Homo sapiens: one gene and its partners. The protein of the gene in region 3 interacts with the protein of the main gene of each other region in a pairwise test. Each region holds a gene or a part of one and is shown on either strand. Other genes may lie near its edges.

Region 1 (7,027 bases), on a different chromosome or scaffold from region 3:
GAGACTCTGCAATTCAGAGGCCTCTTCTCAGTCTGTTCACTAGGTCATTCAGAGTATGCCACTAATGTAGGAAGAAAGTATTTTGATTGACAGCATCATGAATGTTTAATCCTTTCAAGTATGTTATCTATTTGGAATGTATGCAATAAATTCACTTTCATGAACACTATGATGCCATGCAGCTGGAGACTACTAATGGATGCACATTCATTTTACCATTAGGGAAGAAAGTCTGCTACAAAGCAATATTTTAAATGAACTTCAAAACCAAATATAAATGATTCAGTGACTACCATTTATTTTGGATCTTCTCTCTACCTCTCTGTGAACTCCATTAGCAGAGGTGATTAGGAGTAGGCTAGAAGTCAAGCTTGCTCACATTTGGAAGTCTGAGGTCAGAACTACTGCAAGTAGTTCTGCTGACAAGATAGTGTTCACTGCCACAAGCAAGTGGGCCCAAAGCAAAAGCCAATTTCTTTCCACTAAAGACTACTGTGAGGTCCCTACGATTAGATGGATCTTATTAAGGGCTTTAAAATTATCTGAAGTTTAAATTATGTCATGTCCAAATTAAAGATTGTAAGAATATTTTTATAAATGTTAAATGACTTTGAATAATAAAAACAAAAAAATCCAATCTTTGAAATCAACTCTTTCCACAGACCAATTTTTATTTTCTTCCATCAGTTTTGAAAGGAAAATTCTTAATTGCCTTACAAGGCATTCTGTGGTGAAGTCATTCAAAAATATAAAAGAATCTATACTGAGCATGTTTTCATTTAATTTTTTAAACTTTAAAAGACACTCACTTCATATAGTGTCTTGTCTTTTTTCTTTTTTAACCATAAATGGTGTGATACTGTATTTAATGTTCTATTACTTTTTTTCTTTTTCGAGACAGGGTCTCACTCTGTCACCCAGGCTAGAGTGCAGTTGGGTGATCATTGCTTATTGTAGCCTTGAACTCCTGGGCTCAAACCATCCTCCCACCTCAGCCTCCTGAGCAGATGGGACCACAGGCATGCACCACCATGCCTGGCATTTGTTTTTTGGTTTTCGGTTTTTTTTTTTTTGGTCAACATGCTGTGATCTGGGAGCCTGGTTAATTTTTAAATTTGTGTGTGTGGAGACAGGGTCTCACCATGTTGCCCAGGATGGTGTCAAACTCCTGGCCTCAAGCAGTCCTTCTGCCTTGGCCTCCGAGTATGCTGGGATTACAGGCAAAAGCTAGCACAACTGTCCTGTATAACTTTTCATAATTACTAAATTATGCAAAAATTTCTGGGTCTGTACATATGGATCTATTTCATTCCATTTAACTGTATGGATATACTATTAATTGAATGAACCATTTACCTGCTGATGGACATTTCTGTTTATAATGTTTACATTATGCAGTTCATATTATATACAGTTGACAACAAAAAATGCTGCCATGAATATCTTTGTGCAGCTCTTTAATGCACAGTGACTATTTCCTTAGAATTGTTAAGAGTATCATTTTTCAATTCAACAAGAAATGGTTAAAAGGTCCCTTAAAAAGGTTATTCAAGTTTATACCACTAGGCTGTTAAGTATCCCTTATGTGAAATGCTTGGGACTAAAAGTGTTTCGGGTTTCACATTTATTCAGATTTTGGAATATGTACATTATACCAACTGAGCATACCAAATCAGAAACTCTAAAATCTAAATGCTCCAATGAGCATTTCCTTTGATCATTATGTGGGCACTCAAAAAGTTTGGGGTTTTAAAGCATTTAGGATTTCCAATTTCAGATGTTCAGCCTGTACCATTACATGTCCATTTCCCTATACATTCACCAATACCAGATATTTTCAATCTTTAAAATATCTGCCAGTTTAATGAACAAAATATGGGATTTCACTATTTTAACTCACACTTCCCACATCACTGGTGAGCTGTTTACTAGCCATTCATATTTTTTCTCTTCCGTGAAATACTTAACTTAGAACCTTTTCCCATTTTCTTTTTCTTTTTACTTATGGAAATTGTTATGTATTCTGGATATTCCTTATTTGGTGTAAATGTTGTAAATCTATCTTCCTAGTCTGTCATTATTTTAACTTTGTTTATGCTGCCCACTGTCATATAGAAATTTAATTTTTAGAAATTTTTAGTTGAATTTATCAAATCTTTTTCTTTGAAACTTTTGTATTTTGTCTTGCTTCTATACCTCAAAGTTAAAAAATATTGTCCTCTACTTTTTTCTAAAACAGAGGTTTTGGCATAAAAGTCCTGTCTTTGCAAATCACTCAGGAAAACAGGTGGACACTAACTAAAGGCAGTTACTTCCCTACCCCTCCTGCTCCAACCCCTAGAGCTGTGAACTATAACCCAGGATCACTTCCTTTTGATGCTGCTTTGCTGGGGTAGAAGGGGACTGTACAGTGAAGCTTTGACCTGAGGAGCTCTTCTGTAGGTGAAGAGTGGTTAACTATGGTTCCTGTGTGCCTGGGGCCCCCCACTCCTAGGACTCATCCACCCCCTACCCAGAACTTACTAGTACTAGCATGGACTGGGGCCCCCTCCATTCCAGTGCCTGATGGGATAGCTGATACTCATGGATGAAAAGCAGTTTGTAGGCTAAAATAAAAAGATATTTTAAGAATATATTTCTTTTTTTTTTTTTAGAGATGGAGTCTGGCTCTGTTGCCTAGGCTGGAGTGCAGTAGTGTGATCTCGGTTCACTGCAACCTCTGCATCCCAGATTCAAGCAGTTCTCCTGCCTCACCTCCTGAGTAGCTGGGACTACAGGTGCACTCTGCCACACCCAGCTAATTTCGTTTGTATTTTAGTAGAGACAGGGTTTCACCGTGTTGCCCAGGCTGGTCTCGAACTCCTGAGCTCAGGCCATCTGCCCGCCTCGGCCTCCCAAAGTGCTAGAATTGCAGGCATGAGCCACCACGCCTGGCCAAGAGTACATTTCAAAAGAAAAACAACACAATCAACTACAAGTTTTGGTCAGGAGCAACAATATTAGAACTGCTGACCAAGAATTTTAAACTGGGGAGCGGTAACCATACTAAAAGAAATGAGAAAATATTAGCAATATGAAACAAGGACAAGAAGAAGAGAGCCAAGCAAAAACATTAGGTGTGAACAATATAATAGTTGAAATGAAGAACACGGTATATAGCAGGAATAACAGAATGGTTATAATGTAATCATGGAGTACAGTTGAAAATTAGATGGTCAGATTGAGTCCGGGCACGGTGGCTCACGCCTGTAATCCCAGCACTTTGGGAGGCCGAGGTGGGTGGATTGCTTAAGGTCAGGAGTTCGAGAGCACCCTGGCCAACATGGTGAAACTCTTTCTCTACCAAAAAAAATACAAAAATTGACCAGGCGTGGTGGCACATGCCTGTAATCCCAGCTACTCGGGAGGCTGAGGCAGGACAATCACTTGAACCCAGGATGCGGAGGTTGCAGTGAGCGGAGATTGTACCATGGCACTCTAGCCTGGGCAACAGACCAAGAGTCCATCTCAGAAAAAAAAAAAAGGAGGTCAGATTGAGAAATCTCCCAGAAGAAGTACAAATAAATAGATTTTTAAAAAAACCAACCCTGTCTCTACTAAAAATACAAAAATTAGCCAAGCATGGTGGTGGGCGCCTGTAATCCCTGCTACTCAGGAGGCTGAGGCAGGAGAATTGCTTGAACCTGGGGGGTGGAGGTTGCAGTGAGCCAAGATCATGCCACTGCACTCTAGCCTGGGCGACGGAGCAAGACTCCATCTCAAAAAAAGAAAAAAAAAAAAAAAGGCTAAGACCAAAGACAAAAAGAATTATATATCCATAATTAACCAGAACTAAAACTCAAGATACTACCATTTATGATGGTGGTTGGAGTGATGGAGCTTCCTATATTTAATTTCCTATATCTAAATTTCTTTAGATAAAATTGTTTAAAAGAGTAGCCAGGTGCAGTGGTGTGCGCCTATGGTCCCAGCTACTCGGGAGGCTGAGGCAAGTGGCTTGCTTGAGCATTTTTTTGTTTTTGTTTTTTTTGAGACAGAGTCTCGCTCTGTTGCCCAGGCCTGTCTTCTTGTTTATAATCTGAGACAGAGCCACAGATGCACAACATTCAAGCATTTATTCCTACTTCTTCTATACAGGTACTGAGATGGAGTTTTAGTGGTAGCAAGACCAACATACCTTCAGCATGTAGTAGAAGGGGAACCATGACAGGAAGATATCAGAGAAGAATTCAGCAATGCTGAACACACCATACACTACCCAGTAGGTCAGCCACTGGGTATCATCTTCTTTGTTGGGACTCTCTATAGCTTTAATTCTGAAAGGCAGTACAAAAGAAAGTATATCATTTGGTAAGATATCAATGAAAGATTTTCAAATACACTTTCATAACCTGTCCTCTGATACCACTGAGAAACTTAGGCACATGTAGGCACTGTGTCACTAGATGCAAGAGTACAGCTTAAAGACTGGAAGCAATGTGGATATCGGGACAAGCCATTATAACCACTTGTTTCTAGTCTCCTGGTCACCAGAGAAACCAGCACCAGCTGTTACTGCCCTGGATCTCCACCCTGCCAAAGCCTCCCCACAAGTCCTAGAATATACCACTAGTGACTGGGAGCTAGAGCAATTTCCACTCCCAAGCTGGGTCCTGCCACGAGGGATATATCAGGAAGAATTCTCTCGTGATAACCAGGTTCTTATGTACTTTTAATAATTGAGATATATCATGGGTGAATAAGAATTTCCCATAAAGCAACATTTGGAACATAGGTTAGGTACTGCCCAAAATCCACAGCATATTTTATAGTAAACGGGTGAAAACAAACCTCATGGTGTCTATTTAGTTCAGAATGTCTTTAACTGATCCACAGGCTATGGACTTTCCTCCTCTCCTCAGTTAATAACAGGACTTTCCCAACCCTAACTATTGCTTAAACAAAATTCATTCTGCAAATGGATGGAAATACATTTAAAATAATTTTCTAAATCACAGAAATTTCCTTCAGTCCTAGGAATCTCATTATTCTAAACCTGAAGCTCCACAATTTCTTATCCTAACAGATCTAGATATTTATCGTAACTGAGCTGGACTGAAACAGTAAAATAAAAGAACTCTGAATCTTGTTTAGCCTATGAAACAGGTTAACTACTGAAAATACATTGACAGGGAGCTAAGCTATGAGGATGCAAAGGCATAAGATACAATGGACTATGGGGACTTTGGGGAAAGGGCTGGGGGTAGTGAGGGATAAAAGACTACACATTGGGTACAGTGTACCCTGCTCAGTTGATGGGTGCACCGAAATCTCAGAAATTGCCACTAAAAACTTATCCATGTAACCAAACGCCACCTGTTACCCAAAAACCTATTGAAATAAAAAATTTTCAAAAAGCAAATACATTGGCTACTCCATAACATCAGCTCCCCAAAGAGACAGTCAGGCTGCTAAATCATGCTCAGTCACTCACTAAGAAAGCCCTTGTACAGTTAATTAGAAGCAGCTATGTGTGTGAGTTTTAGAAAATAACCAAAAGGGGAAAAATTGTAGCTCAATGAGATGATTACTAATGAGGAAGACAGAGAGAGGAACAAGTAATAAGGTGAATGTTGCTTTGAACTTCAAGACTAGGCAAAATTTTTATTTTTTTGAGACAGGGTCTCTGCACAGGCTGGAGTGCAGTTGCACAATAATAGCTCACTGCAACCTCAAACTTCTGGGCTTATGTAATTCCCTTCACTTCAGCCTCCCAAGTAGCTGGTACTACAGGTACACACCACCACACCTAGCTACTTGCTAAATTTTTAGTAGAGACAAGGTCTCACTGTGTTGCCCAGGCTGGTCTCGAACTCCTGGCCTCAAGCAATCCTCCTGCCTTGGCCTCCCAAAGTGCAGTCTGGTGGCTCCCACACCCAGCCCCAAATATTTCAAAGTACAAGAATCATATAAAATGAATTTAAGAGAGCTGATTATTAAAAAATGGCTTGTAATGTATGCACAAAGTCTGTATTTTTTTAGCTTCCTTCAGATAGAAGCTGGCGAATGTAATAGAAGGCCAAAGGAAAAGTGTAGACAAGCATGTTAACCAAAGAACACAGTATATCCTTTATGTGTAAGATTTCTTCTCCCGCTGTGTTTCATTTGGTATAGTATGGCTTATCCATATTTAATTGGATTTATTTAATTATTAGTATAATAAAAATTTGTTTCCTGTACATTCATTCTGGGCAGAGGAGATACGTAATTACATTTCACTCAAGGTCTTAGTTTTGTGAACGCAATAGCTCACAACTATGTACTTCCAAAAGAAGCAACTCTCAGGACACACCTGGGAATTAAACAGTCTTTTCTAGAATATGACGTAAAAACCTCAAAATGTGATGGGACTGTCATTGTTAATCCAGTGGCTTTTAAATTCTTTTGGCCACAACCCTCGGTAAGCATACATTTTACATCATGATCCAGTAAACAGACATCTTCACATAAAAATATAAACTTAAATAGATATTTCCTGAAACCATTCTGATATTTTAAATTCCATTCTATTTCATTATTTTTTAAATGTTAGTCAAGTTCCACAGATTGAAAAACAGGAAGCCTAACAGTTCAGCTCTTCTAGGAAAAAAAAATTCTTTTTTAATTCATATCTACAATATGAATTCTAAAGTCCCCATGTTAATATACTAGAACACTATATAGTAACATTGAAAAGTAGAAATAAAAGAACTCCAAATTGAATACATACACTGATCACAACTTTGCAGAAAACCAAGGCATATGAAAGAAGCCAGGAAAAGGCCAATGAGTCTATTAAGCTAAAGAGATTTTTTAATAGATCTTCTCATATTATTGAAGCATTTAATTGTTTTAATTTAAAATAGCACAATGTTCAATTTAAAAAATGTCTTTATGTGTCATAACAATCACAAACTACCCAAAACAAGAAAAAAGGGAAGAGATGGTCTAGCTCACTCAGGAACGTGAGGTTCAAAAAAGTGAAGTGCCCCATGTAGTCATGGTGAGA
Region 2 (7,027 bases), on a different chromosome or scaffold from region 3:
AATTCACTACAGGTTTTTTGTTACTTTTAAAGGGAATATGGATAAGCATAGTAACAAAACCCACCAGAATCTAAGCAGTTTTCACCCCCTCAGAAACCACTGTCATTAGTTTACAAAGTTAGCACTTTGAAGTAAAACTAAATGAGGAAGGAAGTAATGTTACCTATCCTTGATACCATGACCATTTATTAGATGTTTTGCTATATAAATTACCGAGAGAATAGTTTGTCATCCACTTAGTGTGTTAGCTGGTGGGGTACAATATAACCTCTCATCTCAGGCTATTTTAAAAAAACAATATTTGCTTCTATAACAAAAGGAAACAAATCTAAGAATCATTCCTGTACTACAGAAGGGTTAAGGCAAAGGTAGCCTTTTGGGCTTTTTAATGAATATGACCCCTATAGAAAAGTCAAGAAAAAAAAACCCTTGTATAAATTATTTTATTTATTATTGTAATTAGATCTTCACAAAGTTGTCTTTTCACTGTGTTTTGTCAACGTGAAATTAAATTGTAGTTATAAGCAAAAGTTGGTTGCCTAGGGAACAATTGTATATTCAGTTTAACAGAAATAAAAGAATATTTGTCTTAAGATGCAAGATTTGTTTTTACATAGCCTTTTGCCATACAATTATAAAAATTTCATTTCAAAAGTGAAATTTTTTTGTGCTGTTTTAGCTTTAAGGGTTGGAATGTTTAGGTGCAACATCAGCTCCTTAAAGAAAAAGCAAAGTGATCTAGGATATGTCTCCCTTGCAAGAGGGAATTAACATTTACAATTAACATGAAAATCATGTATCAGACTTCTGCAGGAGATTCTTCAGCATACCTTATCCAAAAATTACTCACTGTCCTAATGTATCATTTTGAAGAGTCCTGGTAAGTACTTCTCCTTGGCAGCCTCACCTTCCCACATCATGGAAGTACAGGTTTGCACATATACACAACATGATGATAGAAAATATGATATAGTAAATTAGCTTTCTAAATTTCGGTTCTAAGTCTCCTTGTCGATACCAGTAGATCTAAAAGAAGAATTAAAGTTTATAAATTAAAATTTGAAATATAACATTTTCTCTACCAATTTCAAATTTCATTAGTATTTGTTTATTCCCCTAAATGAGACAGACATTCTCCATATTCTGAGGTCTCTACATTCCTGAGATCAGTACAGCCAGAATTTAATTCTTACTCTGAGTTTCCACATCCAAGATCATACTTATTCCTACTTTCTCAGTTTACTTTCCTCTATATTCACACCTGTATACTCCACCAGTCATCTGGCAAGCTATCCAAGAACATATACCTGGGCATACTACTTAACAGGAAAGGAAGACAACATTTAGACTCATGATTCATACAGTTGGTTCAGACCGTAAAATAGGGCTTCCATAATATATTTGGATTAAACTAGTTCATTGTCTGTTAGTCACTTTAGGCTTCAAGCTAGGGGAACAGGAAAGCTCCCAAAGTGGGATGGGCTAGTTCTTCTTCGGGTCATGGGAGTATATAGCAGGATCAGTGAATGAGAACACTTGGAGGTGTCTCCTGGTTTAATTAATTTTAACTCAGATAAGCAAATTACTATTGTTTTTTCTTTTGATTCTGCCTCTAAAGGAACATGAAACAATGTAGCCAACTAATGAATGAACACTGAGGAGCCACCACCATCTTTGTTTCTTCACCATAAAAGAAACATTTGCAGTAAATCAAACATTTTTACAACAACTGCAGCTTTAGATTTCCCAGGAGGTTTTGGTGTTAATACCTCCATTTTGGGAAACAAACATGTAGATTAAACTAATTTTGTAATAATTAGAATTAAATCCAGAGTGCTCTATCTCTTCCCTTAGCAGTAACTGGCATTTCCCAAAGACTGTTGGCCCTTACGTAGTCCTTGAGTGAAGATGAATTAAGTAAATTAAAATCTTTGGCCACCTACGTCTTTCCACTAATTTTTTTTTTTTTTTTTTTTTTTTTTTTAAGCTATCAAGGGAGTGGAATTTCTCTTTGGGGTTACAACTTTGGGATTTAGGAGAAAAGGAGAAGACTCAGATTTTATTGAGAATTCTAACATACTTTTAGGGGGAGGATGAGGATATAATTAAGAGATACCCTTTTGTATAGACCCAAGGCTGAAAATTTTTGTCCTGTGCATTGCAACTTAAACCCTCAAGAACACTGTTTAAATTCTCAACAGTACTTACAAGTATGCAGGCAGTAATACTACTCAAAGAGATGCAGACAGCAAAGAATATATTCAACGGTTTTGGAGGTAGTTGAGGGAAAACAAAAGCACTTATCAGCGTTACCTGTATGAAGAGAAATTATGTAAGGCCTTAACAGTAATTCCAAGACTTGGTAATTACCAACTGGAGTCTAGGCAACAGTACTACAAAATGCTTCATGTTATAAAATTACATCTGCCACCAAGTTTGCTTTCTAGAATGTTAATACAGTAATTATAAATATGTTCGAGTTATTTTAGTACTTCTTTTCTAAACTTTCCCTTACTTATGAAAGGAGAGAAAACATCAGTAATACTAGCTGATGCCAAAATAACTTCATTAACTAAACCTCACTCCCAGGATTAATGATTCTGCTGGTAAAAGTTCTAGCCATTTTGTTATTTTAAATATTTCTAGCAAAATGAATATAATCAAAGCTGGTTTTGCTATAACATTATGAAACACACTGAAAGACTTCTAATGTTGTATAGTTCTGTTTCTAACAGATGCAGCATTATATGCAATCTTTTCATTAAGAAGCCATGGAAAAAAATTCTCTTAAATTTAATGTGCCAGAAAAATGTCAAACTATGGAAAATACAGCTTTTAAAAATTTTATTGTAATAGCTCCCAGATGTATACTGTATACAGGATGTATACAGTACAACTACTATACACTGTGACCAAATCTTTTAAAACTTGACCAAAGGGTAATGGATATGTTCTTCAGGAACAAAATAGAAATGGGGAATTATGGTAGATGACAGAAGGAAGTGGCTACTAGCCACTGACATTTTTACAAATTTACTAGGCAAAACATGGTAAACTCAATTATCTTAAAACGAAGTTGTCTGACTTGTACCATTTCACATATTCAACCTGGGGGTGGGGCAGAATTAAATTAGCTACTCCAATTAGCAACTGCAATTTTGTGGTAATAAAATTAAAAGCACTTATTTAGCTTTTTTTGGAAAGTTAACCATAATTGATAAAGTTTTCAAAACTGGCTAAGAGCCTGGGTGAGGCACAAAATGAGGATACTTACTAGAATCAATAAGGATGTTAAGCTGCCAACAACTAAATTGATGATTCGATCCTGAAAGAGAAAAGAATTTTTAAGCCATATGACTTGGATCCATGTTACCTTCAGTATAGTACAATGCAAGGCATTTGGATGGTTTACTATAAAGAAACCCAAGATCCAGTCCTCTGAGCTTTACACATAAAACTACCAGACAAAGCAAAGTGTACTGAACCATAAGAGTGGAAAATGTACTTTGGGAAAATGGCCAACTGGGGAAGGTTTCTTGAAGGGACAGAACATTTATACTAGAGTCTTGATTGGGTAGTATCAAATGGGTAAGGGAGGCTTACAAATAATGCATGTGCTGCTGAGGATAGCATAAGCCAAAGGAGAAGGACAGGCACTGCAGGAATGGCCAGGCCAGAGCATTGGTTAAAGGTATCAGGAACCGGACTAGATGTAGAGTACCATGATGTGTCTGGAACTATATTTGTAATACAGCTTAGGTATCCTTGTCTAGTCTAAAAATAGATGCTACTGTTAAAAGGGATGGGTCCTAGAGTGCCAAGGCTTGGCACTTGCAATCTTAAGAGACCATCCAGTCCAGTAGTTTTTCCAAGTTATTTAATAGTGAAGGGCTTTAGTATATAAACAAAATATTGGTTGAATGAAGAACCTACCTACTGAGCTTTCTTGTCATTCCCATCCCACCCCAACCAACAAAGAATGTTTGAAAAACTGATCCAATCCTAATTTTACAGGTTAAACTAAATTTAGGCCCAGTGTGGTTAAATTATTTTCTAAGAGTCATAACAAGTTAGAAGCAATTTTGAAACCAGAGATTCCTAAATCCAGGTCACTGGTTAGAAGTAGTTTCAGGTACTACTAAAAAGGTAAAGTATGATAGTGACATGCAGTCTTATTTCTGAGAAGTCAAAGCTGAGTCTTTAACGAATCAGTCGTCTTAAATGTTGTTTTGATAATGGTCTGAGCAGAGAATGGCAGGATATGGAACATGCCGCCAATAAACAAAACCTCAGAGATGGGAAGGACACAGGAACAATCACAGAGCAGCAACCGAATTCTCATTTCCAAGTAGTCGCCTTTTAAGGATAAGAACCCACAGAAGTTAAGAGTCAGGCAAAATTGGGAGGGAAAGAGTAAGAAAGCCAAGTATTGGATGTGTGTGATCTAACCAAGGACAAATCACAACTCTCCAGACCAAGGCCACTGCAACTGAAAGGTTACAGAACAAAAGATACTGGACTCCAGCCACACCCTAACTCCAGAGGACTCAGAAGAGATCTTACCACGACCTCAGCTAGAGAAGCCTACACAGCACACAGGAGCCTGAACTTAGGACCACTTTGTTAGGAAAGGGACCCAGGGACAAGTCACCACTCACTTTAACTTCTTCCCACATGGGACAACATAAAATGTGTAGAGAGACAAAATCCATGGGAGCCCCACTATTTTTGAGAAGCAAGAATATCTGCTGCTCTCTGAGCGCCAGGGATTTCCAAAATGAAGCACTGCATACCTCATAACAGCTCCCACCAATAGAAGTCAAGCCAATATATCACTAATTGCCAAATGACACACAGCAAGTTGCCTACCAGGATCAAAGTAGGAGAAAAATAATGGTAAAAGGATATTAACTATGCCAAGCACATTCACCAATCCTCTCTTTAAAAATTCTAGGATGAAATGGTAATATGACTGTTTCACAGGTAGCAAAACAGGCTCAGGGAAACTGAGAACTTTCCCAAGATCTCAATACCATTAAGTGATAAAGACAAGATTCAGTGCCAGGCCTCCTTTCCCTATTTATGCTTCTCACCCAAAGAACAACCTAGAGTGCTAGTGCTGGTCTAGACAAAGATGTCAAGTGGCAGATGACACCTCAAAAAGCCTATTAGCAAAGTACTACACTGTGCTTACCTTTCAAGAATGATTTCCTCATGGGTGACTTTGTTCCACATTTTTGGATTTCTCCATATAACTGATTTTAATCATCCTGATGAAAATATATCTAAACTTTAATGAATACTTTCCTGCCTACCTTTTAGATAGTCACTGAACAGAATTCCAACAGATTTTCATGAATATCAGTTATTGTTATAATGTAGTGGTCCCCTCTGGGATTCCCAAGATGGGATGAACTATTTCGGACATGGCAGAAGTGTTTCTCAGAATATTTTCTTTCTCCAAGCCAAGGCCTTCTATCAACCATGAATTCAGGTATGCAGAGTTAACTTCAGAAGCCCTCCTACTTCTAATGCTCTCTGTTTTAAACTTGCTACTCAAAGTGTAGTCTATGAACCAGCACATCGGCCTCACCTGAGAGAACTGCAAGAAATGCAGAATCTTAGGCCTCACTGAGACCAACTGAATCAGAATCTGCGTTTTAACAGGATCTGGTAATTTATGTGCACATTTAAAATGGAGAGGCTGTGCTCTAAAGTTTAGTCTAAAATAAGCCATTTTTAAATATTAAGTTCAAATCACAGGGTACAGCTCCTTCCCTGGGCCTAGAGATTATTTTTCAGGGTTTTAGCAGCTCTTCTAGCTCCCAATCTCCAAAGAGGATAATAGAGAATAATTAAATAGCTAGTTAATTAACACTTCAAAGGACAGTTTGGGGAATAATATGCTCCAAATTGGAGCTAGAGTACATGGAGAAAAGTGAGTAATACATTTAAACTTTGCTGTTTATGGAGTAAATTGAAACTCATTATTTCTACTTCTACAGCTAGTCTCTATTAACTCAATTATTTCTCACAGAAACTAGCTCTGTCTCCTCCCCAGTTTTATTTTCACTCTAGTTCTACCTACCATAACTTGTCTCTCCTACCAGAATTTTAAACCTTGTACTGTGGCTTATTTTCACTCCACAAGGAAGCTTGACAGGACAAAGGATGGCAATTAGCCTGGATCCTTGCCTGCTGAGAGGACAGGATACAGATTTAGGATTTCCTTCCCAGAGACAAAATATTCTGCAACAGGTTTAGAGATAGTCTGAATTCATATATACATGAACATAAAGACAGACGTTGTGTGCATACATACATGTATATATATAGTTGAGATTTCACCTATATCATCTTGTAAGTCATATATTTATGCATTTAAACATTATCTACTATAATTCAGATGCAAATACAAAAGTGAATAAAAACATCTCTACCTTCCAGAAGTTTACACTATCCAGAGTTCAGGAGGGCACTAAGAAGACAGAAAGTGAGCTATCTTGGACAGTCAAGGAGAGACTACCAGAGAAGTCAAAACCCTGAGGAAGACTAGCAGATGAAAAGGAAAGGAAAGATGGTTCATGAAAGGAATTCCACAAAGACCCATGGGAGAACAAAAGCATTGCTGTTACAAAAAATCAATGGGACAAATGGAGATTGTTGACCAAGTTTCATGAGAGCTGAGAGGAAAAGAGCTGGAATGCAATGCACAGTGAAGAGCCTGGGCCTGACGGATTCATGTCTTTGTCTTCCTTTAGAATGAGGAAGGAGAAAAAGATGGAGATATATGCAACTGGTTTGTATCTGGAATGGTGGAAAGCAAGTAAGGAGTGTTATCTCTATTTACCAATGGGTAACTAGGTTCCAGAAGACTGACTTGCCAAAGGTCACACGGCTAGGTAATGGCAAAAAATCTCCTATCCAATGCTGTTCACAAAAGACAAGTGTAATGAACAGTTCAAAAGGTCTAACAGTCCTAAAACTAATAAATACAGACCTTAACACGGTCTAGAAACCAAGGTTC
Region 3 (7,106 bases):
TGCTTCCTACCAGTCTCTCTCATGTATTTCAGAGGACTGAGGGTCTTTATGAGAATCTGATGAAAACCAGAAGCTTTTCCCTAGAAATACACACATGTGCAGACACATAATTTTACATGCAGTTTCAGGGGATTCACTGATCCCTAAAACTCACCCATAGGCTCCAAGTTAAAAACCTCTGCTCTTTAGGACAATCAGGTTTTTGTGTGACTCCTGATGCAATGCAACACCAGGGGCACAACATTTACCTTTGCAAAAAAAAAAAAAAACACTTTTCTAACTTCAATCAAATCCAACCTTTAAATCTAACTTCTAGTCTGCACCACAAGGAAGAAACCAGACAAATCTCGGTAGTAAATTCTCCAGGAAAGTCAGTTCAGGCTCAGTCTCTTCAGCAAATCAATGTCACGAGAGAGATTGTCTTAGACTGAAAAAAGACTTAAAAGACATAATAAGTACAAACAATGCACACTCCTGGACTGAAATGTGATTTAGCCAAAAGAGATGGTACAACTGAGGAAATGGAATATGAACTGAGTATAGGATGATATCAAGGAGTTATTAATTTTGTTAGGTATGGTGTTACTTTGATCTTGAAAGAAATGTCCTTATTTAGAGATAAAAACTGACATATTTAGGGAGTAGAATGCCATATAAGTAATTTAAAATAATTTTAACATAATAAAATGAGTCAAAAGAAAAAATGAAAATTATAGAGAATGAAAATCAAAGCAGGATAGGAGGGAAAAAGTTAAGATCCATAATCTCAATAAATTAGTAAAAATGGGCTGGGCACAGTGGCTCACACCTGTAATCCCAGCACTTTGGGAGGCTGAGGCAGGAGGATCACTTGAGCCCAACAGTTCAAGACCAGCCTGGGCAACACAGTGAGAGCCTCTCTACAATTTTTTTTTTTTTTTAATTAGCCAGGCATGGTGGCTGAGGTAGGAGGATCGCTTGAGCTGAAGAGGCTGAGGCTACAGTGAGCCATGTTCACACGACTGCATTCCAGCCTGGACAATACAGCAAGATTCTGTCTCAAAAAAAAAAAAAGTAGTGAAAATGGTATCTGCTTATTCACAGGTTTTTGTATTTCTTTAATTTTTGTTCAAAATTATACCCTAATTTTTTAATATTAATTATGCTAATATTGGGGGCAAAGGAAAAAATTAAGCCTGCTCTAAGCTGTAGAAGGCGTGATGTTCAAGGTTGTCCAGCAGTCCAGAGGAAGGAGCTTATTCAGTCACAAAGAAGAACCTTGCTGAAAGGCAGGATCATTCCCAGTATCTGCCTCTCCTGGGCTGGGCCTGAGACACAGGGTAGGCCTAGATAAACCCAGAGGCCGAACAGACCTCCCAGAACTGCTCCTCACTAGGGCAGAAAGGACAGCCCAGCCACTGCCTAAATGGTCAGTGTTAGTTACTACAGAGCAGGACGGCAGAAGGCAGAGCAGACCAGAGCAACTCCACAAAGTCTGTACCTGAGCAAGTATCGAACACCATCACCTGCATCCTTCAAGGGTTCCAGGTAGATCTCCAGCCTCTTGTAGGAGAGAACCAAGTTGAAAAGGTCAAACGCTGGGGACTTGGTAGGAAAAGGTGGAGACTCCAGGGGAGCCTCGGGCATCACGCTGGGGCTCAGCTCCGGCCCACTCCCCTCACGTTCTGATGTCTGCATCCTGTAACCATAATAATTCCCAACATTTGCATTGCACGTCTAGTCCTCAACACAATTCTACCTACAGATTCAGGTGGTGCCAACAGTAAACCTGTGAGCAAGGGAAAGTGAACTATTCAGACCTAAAATCCTGTTCTTTGTACTCTCCATCCAATGCTCTTTTCCCCAAAGATCCATCAAAACTAAAAATCATAAAAACCAAGCATAAATGATCGCTGCAGCGAGGCAGCCCATGGGCTGAAATGAAATGATGTCCTGGAACATTTTTCTCCCACTCTTTACCTGGTTAATTCCTACTCATCCTTCAGGTATCAGCTTAAACATCACTCCCTTACTCTGGGAAGTCTCTGCCAACACCCCCAACTCTGGACTGGGAGACCCTCTCCGATGCTCCCAAAGGATCACGTACTCACCCTAACAGAGCACTTATCACATCACATCGCTTCTTGGCCTTGTGGCTAAGATCAAGTGCAGAGCACTGACCACGTCAAAGTAAAACTCCCTGCTCTTAACTGGCCTCCATTCACGACTGCTTCTGTACACAGTGGGTGCTTAACAAATGCCTGCTGAATGAGTGAATGAAATACCGTGCTCCAGGACTCTCGCCCGATCCTCTAACTCTTCCCACTCCCTTCGGTTCCCAACAACTTCCTGGGCCATCTCTGCCCCAGGGCAGTCGGCATCAGAACGCCCCATTCCCGTCTGCCCTTTCTGATGAGGAAACCGAGGAGCCTTTACGGTCTTTCCCAGTTCAAAGTCCTATCCTGAACTCTAAGCAGCAAACGAGGGGGCGGAACCTCGGCGAAGAGCAACATAAACCAGTCCCAGGCAATCAGCCGCGACCTGATGGGAGGGTGAGGGGATGGGACAAAGGGGCCAACGGGACCCCGAAATCCCCGCAGGCCGAGCCAAGGCGAAAGGGCACAGAGCGGCGCCAGGTATGAGCCCAGGAAGGGGCGAGGTATATCGACGCCCGCACTGGCCTTGGCCAACACCTCTGCAGCCAGGGGGGCCTGATGGAGCCCGTGAGGCTGGACAGGGAAGGCCATGCCCGAGGTCGTGGGGCCAGCATGTGGCGGCCCCCGCTGCGCCCAAGCACCCAACTACACACAGCCTGCGGAGACACTGGGACGCGGGGGGACGGCACCTCACCTACCCGGCCGCTGGCTCCGTGAGGGAGGCGGCAGGGTCGGGCAGGAGCAGGGGTAGAGCCACTGGGCCCCGGAGCGTTTCTTCAGGCCTCCCCCGGCTGAACGCCGCTCCTCCTGCCAGGGTTGTTCGGAAGTCGCAGGTCCGAAAATCTCCTCCGCCTACGCCGCGGCCGCCACCGCCGCTTCCGGGACGCGAATCGCTCTGCGGCTGCGTCCTCATGACGTCATCCCGCTCCGGGTTTAGCTCCGCCCACCCCAGCACAGGCAAGCACCCTTGCCAGCAGTGCGCCTGCGCGTCTTTCCCGCGCGCTCCAGGCTGGAGTTAATTCTGTCCTTGGCCGGCCGCCGTTCACAAAGCCTTGAGGACCCTTGGAAGCACGTGCTTGGCGACCCTGCAGCTCGTTGCCCTGCCTTGCCGCAGGGAACAGTTGGCGAGAGGCTTAAATGAAGAATTTACGTCTTCATCCTCTTTCCTTCCAACTTTGGAACTGAACTGGGGACTGTGTGTGAGCCCCGGAAAGACACCGTATCCTGTATGAGATGCCCAGCAGAGCATGCAGTTGTTTCCGGAGTAGCTAGTGTGTACAAGGTCCTGTGCAGGCCTCTCCCAGCTCAGTTCACTTCACACCGTGTGGCCCAGTTAATTTCCCTTAAAGCACACATCCGATGGCTTTATATTAGTGACTTAGCGCTCAGGTACAGAGGAGCCAAGCACTGAACCGGACTGAGCTCTTTTTAGACATTATCTAGTTCTCCTCCAACGACCCTATTAGGGTTGTCGCCATTTTACAGATGGGGAATCTCAGACGTGTTAAGGAACTTCTTTAGAGTCACAGCTAAGAAGCAAATGGGAGCTGGAATTTGAAGCTTATGTGTCATCTGACCCCAACGCCCCAACCATACCACCACCCACCTTGGTCTGCATTTCCTGGTCTTGTCTCCTGCCATCTTTCAGCTGCCTTTAACTTTGGCCAACTGAACCCCTCCACTGTTACCCTCAAATGCCCCTGGCACTCAAATGTCTGTATCCCTTCCTTGAGTGCCCCAGCTGGAAGTAATCACTTCCCTCTTCAAGTAGCCACAGAGCTTTAACTGCATCTCTTCCTCCATTATCTCCTTTCAGAAAGACAGGCCCATCCCTCCAGCCAGGACTTAGCTGTGCTCCAGGGTCCAACTCTTATTTCCTTAGGGCTTTGCTCTAACAGGCCTGAAATCTTGACTCTCGCTAACTCTTAATCATCATTCTAGAGACAAAATTCATGGAAAATTTCTCCTTTAGCCTAACTTTACCCCCTCTTTCCTACATGAGTTGGAAGACTCACTGTGAAGTGCTCTCTACCGCTGCTTCCTCGCCCAATTCACTCCTCACTGCACTGTGGTCCTGCTCCCCTCCATATTTCTGGGCTACCTGCCTGCTCACCTGTGACATCCTGGCTGCTAAATCCAATGGACACTTCCCAGTCCTCCTTGCAGATGACCTCAGAAGCACTGGAATCTCTTTCCTTTTTGGCACCATTGTCCACCTTAGCTTCCATGACACCACCCTCTCCTCTCTTTCCGACCTTCAAGGTCTCCTTAGGGCTTTTCTTCCTACCCCTCAAATGCTGGGGCTCCTTTTGCTACCCTTCTTTCTTCTGACTCAAGGCACTCCGTGAGGATCTCATTCACTCTTGTGGCTTCTGTCAGCTAATGTTTCGTTTCCCGTGTCTATGTCTCCAGCACCTAAAGCAGTACCTGGCACATAGTAGGCATTCTGTTAAGAAGGGTTGCAAGATGTTACCATTGGGGGGTAGTCTGTGGGATCACCCTGTGTTAGTTCTTATAACTATGTATAAATTGACGATTGTCCCAAAAGTAAATGCTTACCCTGTGTAGGTATTTTTCTCAAAGCTCCCTGCTTTAGTTGACTTTGTCAATTACCCGGCATGCGCCAGTCCCAACATAAGTAAGGTAGGAGGGCTTCTCCTCAGATGAATTGCTTGGTTGGTTTTTCCAGCTGTAAAATGGGGATAACCATAGTGGTACCCTCAGTGTGGGGCTGTGATGAGAATTAAATGAGCTAAAGTATGTAAATTCCTGACATGTTATAAGTGTTCAAAAATCGTTAGCAATCATTGTGATTTTTATTTTTACTCAAAGCCCTACCACCACCACCCCTAGCCCAAAAATCAGACAAGAATCCACGAAAGGCCAAAATGTAGAAAGATCCAATTCCCACACATATCACTAAGCCATATACAGAAATCCACTCACCACCCCTTAGAGAAATGGACTGAGCTTTGTGGTGGTCCAGGCCCATCTGCTGGACTCTGCCTCTCCTCCCTTAGGATGGGTCTTTTCCCCGAAAGCTCCTGGGTCTGTCATGCAGATAGCCTCTGAAGGCCCCTCTTCTTCGTTTCCTAACCTGGCCTCAGGTCTGAATTCCAGGATAGGCCATCGCCACTCCCCACCCACTCCCATCCCCCACCCTGTCCACCCCTCTGTACCTTTCTCAGACCACTCTCTTGGTGGATAGTTTCAGTGGCCCCCTGTGACCTCCAGGATAAAACCAAAGCCTGGTGTATTCAACTCTGGCAGTTCTCGGATATGTCACACCTTCTCCCATTACTGTACCTTTCTACAGACTACTCTCACCTTTTTTTTTTTTTTTTTTTTGAGATAGAGTTTTGCTCTTGTTGCGCAGGCTGGAGTGCAATGGAGAAATCTTGGCTCACTGCAACTTTTGCCTCCCAGGTTCAAGCGATTCTTCCGCCTCAGCCTCCTAAGTAGCTGGAATTACAGGCATGCACCACCATGCCTGGCTAATTTTTTGTATTTAGTAGAGATGGGGTTTCACCATGTTGGCTAGACTGGTCTCAAACTCCTTACCTCAGGTGATCCACCTGCCTCGACCTCCCAAAGCGCTGGGATTACAGACGTGAGCCACTGCGCCCCATATTCTTTAGTTGGCCAGCTCTTATTCTTCCTCCAAAATTCAGCTCAGATCTCACCCCTGAAGAAAGACTTCTCTGACACCTTCCCCATCAGCAGCCACTGTCTGGATTACGTGCCCTTCTGACTTGGCTCCGTGGGCCTGCCCCACCCCAGCACTTGGTGCCTCCTCCTCTCTCTAGACAGTGAGAGTCCTGAGGGAACTGCCTATAATTTCTGTGTCCAGCATCTAGCACAAAGGAGGTACCAACAAATGTTCCTTGAATGAGCGCATGCGTGTCAGTTTCCTCTTGGAGCACAGAATTCACATCTCTTTCAACAAAAGCCCCAGAACAATGCCCATTTCTTTTTTCTTTTTCTTATCTTTCTTTCCTTTTTTAATGTAATTTTATTTTATTTTTGAGATAGGGTCTTCTGCTGCTGCCCAGGCTGCAGTGCAATGGTGCAATCATAGCTCACTCTAATTCCTGGGCTCAAACAATCCTCCTGCCTCAGCCTCCAGAGGAGCTGGGACTACAGGTGCACACCACTAACACCTAGCTACTTAATTTTTATTTTTATTTTTTTTTGAAACGGAGTCTCACTCTGTCATCAGGCTGGAGTGCAGTGGCACGATCTTGGCTCACTGCAAGCTCCGCCTCCCGGATTCAAGCGATTCTCCTGCCTCAGCCTCCCGAGTAGCTGGGACTACAGGTGCACACCACCACGCCCAGCTAATTTTTGTATTTTTAGTAGAGACGGGGTTTCACCATGTTGGCCAGGATGGTCTCGATCTCTTGAGCTCGTGATCTGCCTGCCTCAGCCTCCCAAAGTGCTGGGATTACAGGTGTGAGCTACCGTGCCTGGCCAATTTTTTTTTTTTTTTTTTTTTTGTAGAATGAGGTGTTGCTATGTTGCCCAGGCTGGTCATGAATCATTTCTTAAAACAATGACTGTGAAACCAGCAAGAATGAACTGGACAGAAATTCTACCCTCTATGAACTCTTAGTTCAACAGAAGACGCTGACTTGACTGAGCCATGATATAAAGCAGGGGATTCTACTGTAACCGTAGGAGCAGAGAGAAGAGGCAGACTTAATCTAAGTGAGAGGATGGGGAAAGTTTTGTGTTCAACAATGTAGTATTTAAGCTAAGGAGTCCCCACCCTTCTTAAGAAAAATAAATTTTTTTCTTTAATAACCTAAGTACCGGTCAGGCACAGTGGCTCACACGTGTAATCCCAGCACTTTGAGAGGCTGAGGCGGGCAGATCACCTGAGGTCAAGAGTTTGAGACCAGCCTGGCCAACAAGGTGAAACCCCGTCTCTACTAAAAATATAAAAATCAGGCCGGGCGCGGTGGCTCACGC
Region 4 (7,146 bases), on a different chromosome or scaffold from region 3:
CAAATGCAATAATGCAGATGAATATGCATTGAAACTGTAGTTCTATAATATAATACAGAAGGTATTATCCATTCAACAAAGAGATAGAAGATAAAGGAATCTGAATTCAAACTGCCAGAGCAGGAATCCTGGGTCAATCATCTACTAGCTTTACCTTTTAATATGTAAAATGAGTATTACAGCACCTATTTCATATGACATTAGCTTAACGATGTTGGCTACTATTGCTGTTACTAAATGCCTACTGTGTTAGGCATTCTATTAGATACTGGTAATAAAATGGAATTAAGACTGACAGGGCTAATATCTGTGCCAAAACCTCTATCTCCTACTCCATCTACTACATTTTCTAAGTCATTTATGTCATATGTACTTAACAGCAAAGAAAAATCTAAGTAGTAAAGCATTTCCATAGAACATCAAGATAAGAGTCCAGAATTCCACTCTTTCTTTTCTATAATAATTTCCAGTAAACACTATAGTGATTCTAGTATTTCTTTTCCTAATCCATCACTTGAGTTGAAACTTTCCTGATGACTTCTGGGTAAACTATCTGAGATGTTTCTATCAAATGTAAATAATCTAAGGTAGTATTTCTCAAAGTAACACCTAAAGACCATCTGCTTCCCAATCACCTAAAATGCTAATTAAAAGGCAGATTTCTAGGCCCTCTTTCAGATCTATTGATTCCAAAGCTCTGGCTGGAAGATGGGAGAGTCTGCATTTCTAATAAGTCCCTGTGTGATTTTTATGAAAACCGGATGTGAGAACCATGTTCCCAAGAGGGAAAAACTCCCACTACATAAGAAGTTTATAAGGCCGGGAATGGTGGCTCGCTCCTGTAATCCCAGCACTTTGGGAGGCCGAGGCGGGCGGATCACGAGGTCAGGAGATCGAAACCATCCTGGCTAACATGGTGAAACTCTGTCTCTACTAAAAATACAAAAAATTAGCCGGGCACGGTGGCAGGCGCCTGTAGTCCCAGCTGCTCGGGAGGTTGAGGCAGGAGAATGGCGTGAACCCGGGAGGTGGAGCTTGCAGTGAGCCCAGAAGGCACCACTGCACTCCAGCCTAGGCGACAGAGCAAGACTCCATCTCAAAAAAAAAAAAGTTTATAGCCAAAGGAAATTCTGCGCAATAATGATCCAAAGCTTCATAAAGGAGAAAAATTTTAATCCTCAGAATACATTTTCACATGCTTCTGTTAACAGGGTGGAGACAACAATTCATGGAGACTGAGACCAAAAGTGACTTGAATATACGCACCCTAATTGTGTGTGTTCAATAAATTCCTATTCTAGAGGCCAAGAGAACGGGTGGAAAGGGGATACACTGCAAATGCTTACTTAAATTTCAGAAGAAGGAAATAAAACTTATTGCAATAGTCAGGTAGGTCTGTTAAAACTGAAGTTTCATGATCTCAGAAAATGGAACCACTTTCTCTTAAACTCAGCTAAGTCATGACAGACCTCCCCGCTCCAACTCTCCATGCCTACCACAAACCTTGGATAATCTCCCAAATGTAAACCTTGTCTACCGTATCCTGTGACCATTAGAACAATCAGAGGCAAGGAGATACACGGTCTTTTGATTAAAGTAAACTGAAATAACCAATTAAAATTTACATTTGTGCCTCTCGCTCAAATAAACAGTTATAGAAGAGCTCTCACTGAGATGTGGAACAGAATCAAGCAGCTCTGAACTTTTCAAATAATAACAACTGTTATTTCCAAATAACAATTTCTAAATAACAAGCTGATGAACAAAATATTTATTTACCCACCAAGCCACAGTAGCCTGAGACATTCTCTGGTTCAGATAATAAAATAAATGCCTTAGAGGGCTTTCGTTCCTAAGATGCTGGTGAGTTTAGCACTGTGACTGCAAGAAATCGGGAACCTACGACAAAAAGACGCCCAGCCTGCCCACACTAACCGTCCAGAACTAGGTCTGGAGCAGCAAGGCGGGCGGGGCCGCGATTTCTTCCGCATCGCTGCGCCCGTTCTTCTCCGCCTGCGTGAGCACCGCCCACCCACTCGCGGTGTGAACATACTGGGTCTCGCCTCTCCTTTCCCCTCCCCTCGGCCTGGTGCTGAATCATGAGCCCAATGTCTCCAAAAGGTAAAATCAAAGAACAAAGCCACCCTTGGGGCTGGTCTGAATGGGGTACCACGTCGGGGTGGGGCAGAAGGCTGGAAACCACAACTTTGCTCTCCTTCTTCCCCAATTCCCCCACCCAACCCCCAAATTAAGAGGAGTACTGCAGTGCTCAGGAATTCCCAAGAGGGTGGCCCTTCTCCCAGTTGCTCGGTCTGCTACCGTCCGTCCGGGACCCGGCGCGCTCCGCCTCATTGTTCCAGCGCGCCGCCCGCCGCCCGCCGCCGGGAGCCCGCGCCCTGCAGAGCCAGCGAGTTGGCGGCTCCCGGGGAGGGGGGTTGGGGCTTGGCCTGCTCTAGATCCCCGACCCCTCGCCCCTCTGGGGCCGAGTAACAACAGCCCCCTGCCCACCCCCATAGCCTTCCTCCCAACCGATCGCTAAGGCGGAACCCACAAGTCCCCGGAGGCGCCTGGTGGGTGCTGTCCAAATGCTGGGAGGAGGCGGGAGGGGGGTGGGGAAGAAGGAGCTGGAGGCCCGGCCTGCGCGAAGCTGCAGCCCTCACCCCGACAGCGCGATTCGGTGACGCGGGTACCGCTCGGCCATGGTTCCTCCGCCCAAACAGGGAGCGGCTCGGCTACGGCCCGTCTCCCAGCCGTGGACGCAGGCACCTAGCAGCCCTTGGCCCTCCCTGTCTCCACAGAAGCAGAAAGTGGAGGGCCAGAAGACCCCGTGCAGGCTGCAGAAGTTCTCATTTGCTACTCACCCCAACTGTTTCTGTCCCTGCGGTTCTTGGCCATGGTGGTCCAGGAGCTGGTGGCGGTGAGGCGCTGTCACTGCGCTCGCTGCCTTCTCCGGGGCCGCAGGTTGCTGGCGGTGGGAGGCTCCGTGCCCGCGCTGGGCGCAGTTCGCTCAGACTCTGAGGATGTTGCTGTGGCGCTGGTGGGAAGGAGTGGGGAGGAAAAGGGAGGAGAAAGCAGATGAACCAAGCTCAGCATCACAAGCCCGAGTTCACACAGATACCAGCGTCACACCCTCCCTACCTCAGTCCACCCCCAGACCGTGAAGACAGTGATAGACCACGTACCGCAACATTTTCAACGGAAAACACAAACAAATAAACAGCACCCCCCTCGAACACACTCTCAAAGAATTTAACAGCGTTATCAGAAATACACAAACCGATATACTGCATGATTCTGGATGTTCAAATACCTGTTTCAAGCACGGTTATACATTAGTACAAACAAGCTGGCAACATTTATATAGCCAAAGTAGCTAAAATAATGTGCATTTATCTACGAGGCACCCATTTTTTTTTCCATTTTAAAAGCAAGGTCATGTTAGTAAAGAGGGTATCATGCATTTTTGTATATGTATACTGAGTAGTTTGTCTTAAAATTAGAATAGCAAAATTTATATCAAGAAGATCAAGATAAATGAAAGCTGTAGATTCATTACGATCTGTAACTCAATATCCACTGGGTAAAATTTCCCACTAGATTTGCAAAGATAAGGTCCAGACCTATAGTCCAATAGCAATTATTTGAGCTGAAATCATACTACATAGTCTGGGTATGGGTGGGCCCTGGCAGCCATAAAGGTTGCAGACAATTTTGAAAGGAAAAGAAAAAAAATAAAAATACTTTCAATCTTTCCCTTTTCACTGCTTTCTCTCTGCTACAAACTTAGTTGTTTTCAGTAACCTGGAAACACTGTCCCTTTATACTACCTCAACCTCAAGATACCATCATGCCGTCCCTTACAGTTTCCTTCTGCCATTTGGTTGTTACTCACACTCTGTACTGATCGGTTCTTAGGAGATCACTGCCAGCCTCTTAATTACCAGATCCATGATCTCTGCTAATTCCTCATGGTAAGCAACTCCTCACGCTACACTCTCTCAATGTAATTTACTATGATGGCTTCAGACAGGACCTCCATGCTGATGATTCCCAAATCTATACTTGTAGTCTTCTGCCCTCTAGAAGAGAGGACATTATACCAGAGGTGTGTTTATAACTGCCTAAGGTTATCCTCACGTTGTTTTCCTACTGACATTTGAACATCAACATATCTGAAAACAAACTCCCCCACCACTGCCAAATCTTATGCATTATATTTCAGTTACTGGTTCTAGTGACTGCAGAGTCGTGAACACTGTAACCAAGTTTACAACATGGTTTTAAAGAAGTCTGTGCTCAACAGAGTTGAAATGACATTAATGAAACAACATAGGAAGACAGACATTATCTCATCCTTATACCTATAAACCAAGTTCATAGAACAAAAGAGAAGTGTGGTCTGCTTTTCTTCTTATATTCCTTTACTATCATTCTCAGCTTACATTCCAGCCTGAAAATCCCTTTCATATGAATCCCATTTTTAAGAGTACAATAGATTACACACAAAAAAGAAAAAATTTATATAATTCAACACCTATGCCCAATTGAAAAAGAAATTAATTTTTTAAAAACCTGTTGTGTTTATAATTAGTAAGTAATCTGCAGGTGAATACTTTGAGACTGTGTGAATCACAAAAAAATGCTTAAATAAATAGCTCTCTGTATGTGACTTTTTGTACTATTGGCCAATAACTTTTCATCCACTGATTTTAGCATCCATTGATCCTTGCCTGAATCAATTTCATATTAGTGATTTTTTAAATGGAGGCTTTAAAATCATTATCTGTTGTTTGTTTGTTTTCCAGACACAGTCTCCCTCTGTTGCCCAGGCCGGAGTGCAGTGGCGTGATCTCAGCTCACTACAACCTCCACCTCCCAGGTTCAAGCGATTCTCATGCCTCAGCCTCTCAAGTAGCTGGGATTACTGGCGGTCGCCAGCACGCCTGGCTGTTTTTGTATGTAGAGACGGGGTTTCTCCATGTTGCCCAGGCTGGTCTCAAACTCATGAGCTCAAGCGATCTGCCCACCTCAGCCTCTTGATGTCATGTCTTTTAAATTAAGTAGCTGGCATTCCCTCTCCCACTTTTCTATGTTGAGTCCCTCTATAAATTAATGGAAGCTTTTAAAAAAATTGTGCTATGCATCACCATTCTTTTTAATGCCTAAATTCCCCTAATTTGGCTGAGGGTCAGCTCGTGTGTCCTTTTAACATTGTCCCTTTTTGTCTTTGAGCAGTTCCCTGTATTCTGGTAAAAGAAAATGTTTCAGGTTCCTTTGTATTTTCCCTATCTTAGAACTAGAATAGCCATTTCTCCAAGATGCTGTGGCTCCTTTTAACGAGAAAAGGTGTTTAGAAACCAAGACGTGGGTGCTAGTTGTGCTCATTGCTGGGTGAAGATCACTGTTTCTAGACCCTTTCAGTGGACATTGCTAGAATGCATCTTTTTAATCATAAGTTTAATCTACTCTGAAGAAATACCTCAATAGTATGAAAATATAAACATACATGGTTATGTATTACATTACTTTTTGTTATTGTAAAATGCTGGAAACAACCTGAATGCCCACATATAGATGAGTGGTTGAATACATTATAATACATATACGCAATAGAATGTTATGTAGGTGTGAAAAAGAATACAGAAGATCTTTATAAGCTAATACAGAGTGATTTCCAGAATACAATGTTAAATGAGGAGGAAAAAGTGAAAATAGTATACCATTCCTGGAAAAAGGAAAGGATATGAAAAAAGTATCCATTCATCTGTGAAAAATAAATACAGCAAGACTAAACCAGAAACCAATGAGATTGGTCACCTACGGGAGATGGGTGGGAATAGGGTAGAAATAATGGAAGAATGGGAAGAGGGTAGTAGGGATTAAGGGGACTGATATTTCTCTAAGTGTAATGCTTTTATATAACTCTGAGTCTTAGAACAGTAATGTTTCACATTCTCCAGAATAAGTTTTAAAATGCTTACTATGATGACTATAATCAAAAAGATAATAACAAGTGTTGGTGAGATGTGGAGAAATTGGCACCCTCATAAACTGCTGATGGAAATATAAAATGGTGCAGATACTTTGGGAAAAAGTCTAGCAGTTCCTCAAAAAGTTAAACATAGAATTGCCATATACATTAGCACTCCTAGATATACACCCTAAAGAAATTACAATATATGTCCACAAAAAAACTTGTACAGGAATATGCATAACAGCATTATTCATAATAGCCAAAAGGTGGAAACAATCCCAGTGCCAAATAACTAGTGAATGGATAAACAAAATGTAGTATATCCATATAATAGAACATTATTTGATCATAAAAAGTTATTGAGTACCAATATATGGTACAACATGGATGGACCTTGAAAACATTATAGTAAATGAAAGTAGCCAGCCACAAAGACCACATATTATATGATTCCATTTATATGAAATTTATAGAATAGGCAAATCTAAAGAGGCAGAAAGTAGATTAATTGTTGCTTAGGGATGGAAGAAAGGAGTGGGAGGTTGGGGAGAAATTGGAGAGTGACTGCTAATGAGTATGAGGTTTCTTTTGGGGGCAATGAAAATGTTTTAGAATTCATCATGAAATCAACTTTGCACAACTCTTGGGTATACTAAAGCCACTGGATTAGGCTGGGTGCAGTGGCTCACGCCTGTAATCCCAGCACTTTGGGAAGCTGAGGTGGGAGGATCACTTGAGGCCAGGAGTTCGAGACCAGCCTGTACAACATACAAAGACCCCATCTCTATAAAAAAAATAGAAAAACTAGCCAGGTGCAGTGATGTGCACCTGCAGTCCCAGCTACTCAAGAGGCTGAGGTGGGAGGATCCCTTGAGCCCAGGAGTTCAAGGATTCAGGCCGCTGCACTTCAGCCTGGATGACAGAGCAAGACCCTGTCTCAAAAAATGAAACAAAACAAAAAAACTCCACTGAATTGTACAATCTAAGTTGGTGAATTTTATGGTATGTGAATTATGTTTTTAAAATACAAATGTTTTTAAAAAGTCAAAAGTCAAGTTCATTTTAAATCAGAATAAAAGAAGAAAAGGTATTACTCCATTTGAACTTTAGTACTTTAAATCCTCTCTCTTCCTGACTCTTCCGGGATGTTACTCCACAAACTATTCTCTTCC

What was found.
Region 1: the proteins of ZFYVE27 (region 3) and REEP5 interact in binary tests that used the Homo sapiens proteins (3 or more experiments, as listed by UniProt).
Region 2: the proteins of ZFYVE27 (region 3) and TMEM243 interact in binary tests that used the Homo sapiens proteins (3 or more experiments, as listed by UniProt).
Region 4: the proteins of ZFYVE27 (region 3) and ATL1 interact in binary tests that used the Homo sapiens proteins (3 or more experiments, as listed by UniProt).

Annotation. Positions count from the first base shown.
Region 1 is NC_000005.10:112,898,203-112,905,229, forward strand, and holds part of REEP5 (receptor expression-enhancing protein 5), read right to left. Parts: intron 4,317-7,027; coding exon 4,178-4,316; intron 170-4,177; exon of another isoform or gene 1-169. UniProt on the Homo sapiens protein: Plays an essential role in heart function and development by regulating the organization and function of the sarcoplasmic reticulum in cardiomyocytes.
Region 2 is NC_000007.14:87,195,733-87,202,759, forward strand, and holds the end of TMEM243 (transmembrane protein 243), read right to left. Parts: intron 7,023-7,027; exon of another isoform or gene 6,448-7,022; intron 5,495-6,447; exon of another isoform or gene 3,326-5,494; coding exon 3,275-3,325; exon of another isoform or gene 2,314-3,274; coding exon 2,209-2,313; coding exon of another isoform or gene 2,083-2,208; exon of another isoform or gene 1,950-2,082; intron 1,027-1,949; coding exon 904-1,026; 3' UTR 428-903; downstream 1-427.
Region 3 is NC_000010.11:97,733,049-97,740,154, reverse strand, and holds the start of ZFYVE27 (protrudin), read right to left. Parts: upstream 3,028-7,106; 5' UTR 2,834-3,027; exon of another isoform or gene 2,830-2,833; intron 1,679-2,829; 5' UTR 1,678-1,678; coding exon 1,481-1,677; intron 1-1,480. UniProt on the Homo sapiens protein: Key regulator of RAB11-dependent vesicular trafficking during neurite extension through polarized membrane transport. Promotes axonal elongation and contributes to the establishment of neuronal cell polarity.
Region 4 is NC_000014.9:50,556,015-50,563,160, reverse strand, and holds the start of ATL1 (atlastin-1), read right to left. Parts: upstream 3,017-7,146; 5' UTR 2,896-3,016; coding exon 2,862-2,895; intron 2,122-2,861; exon of another isoform or gene 2,035-2,121; intron 1-2,034.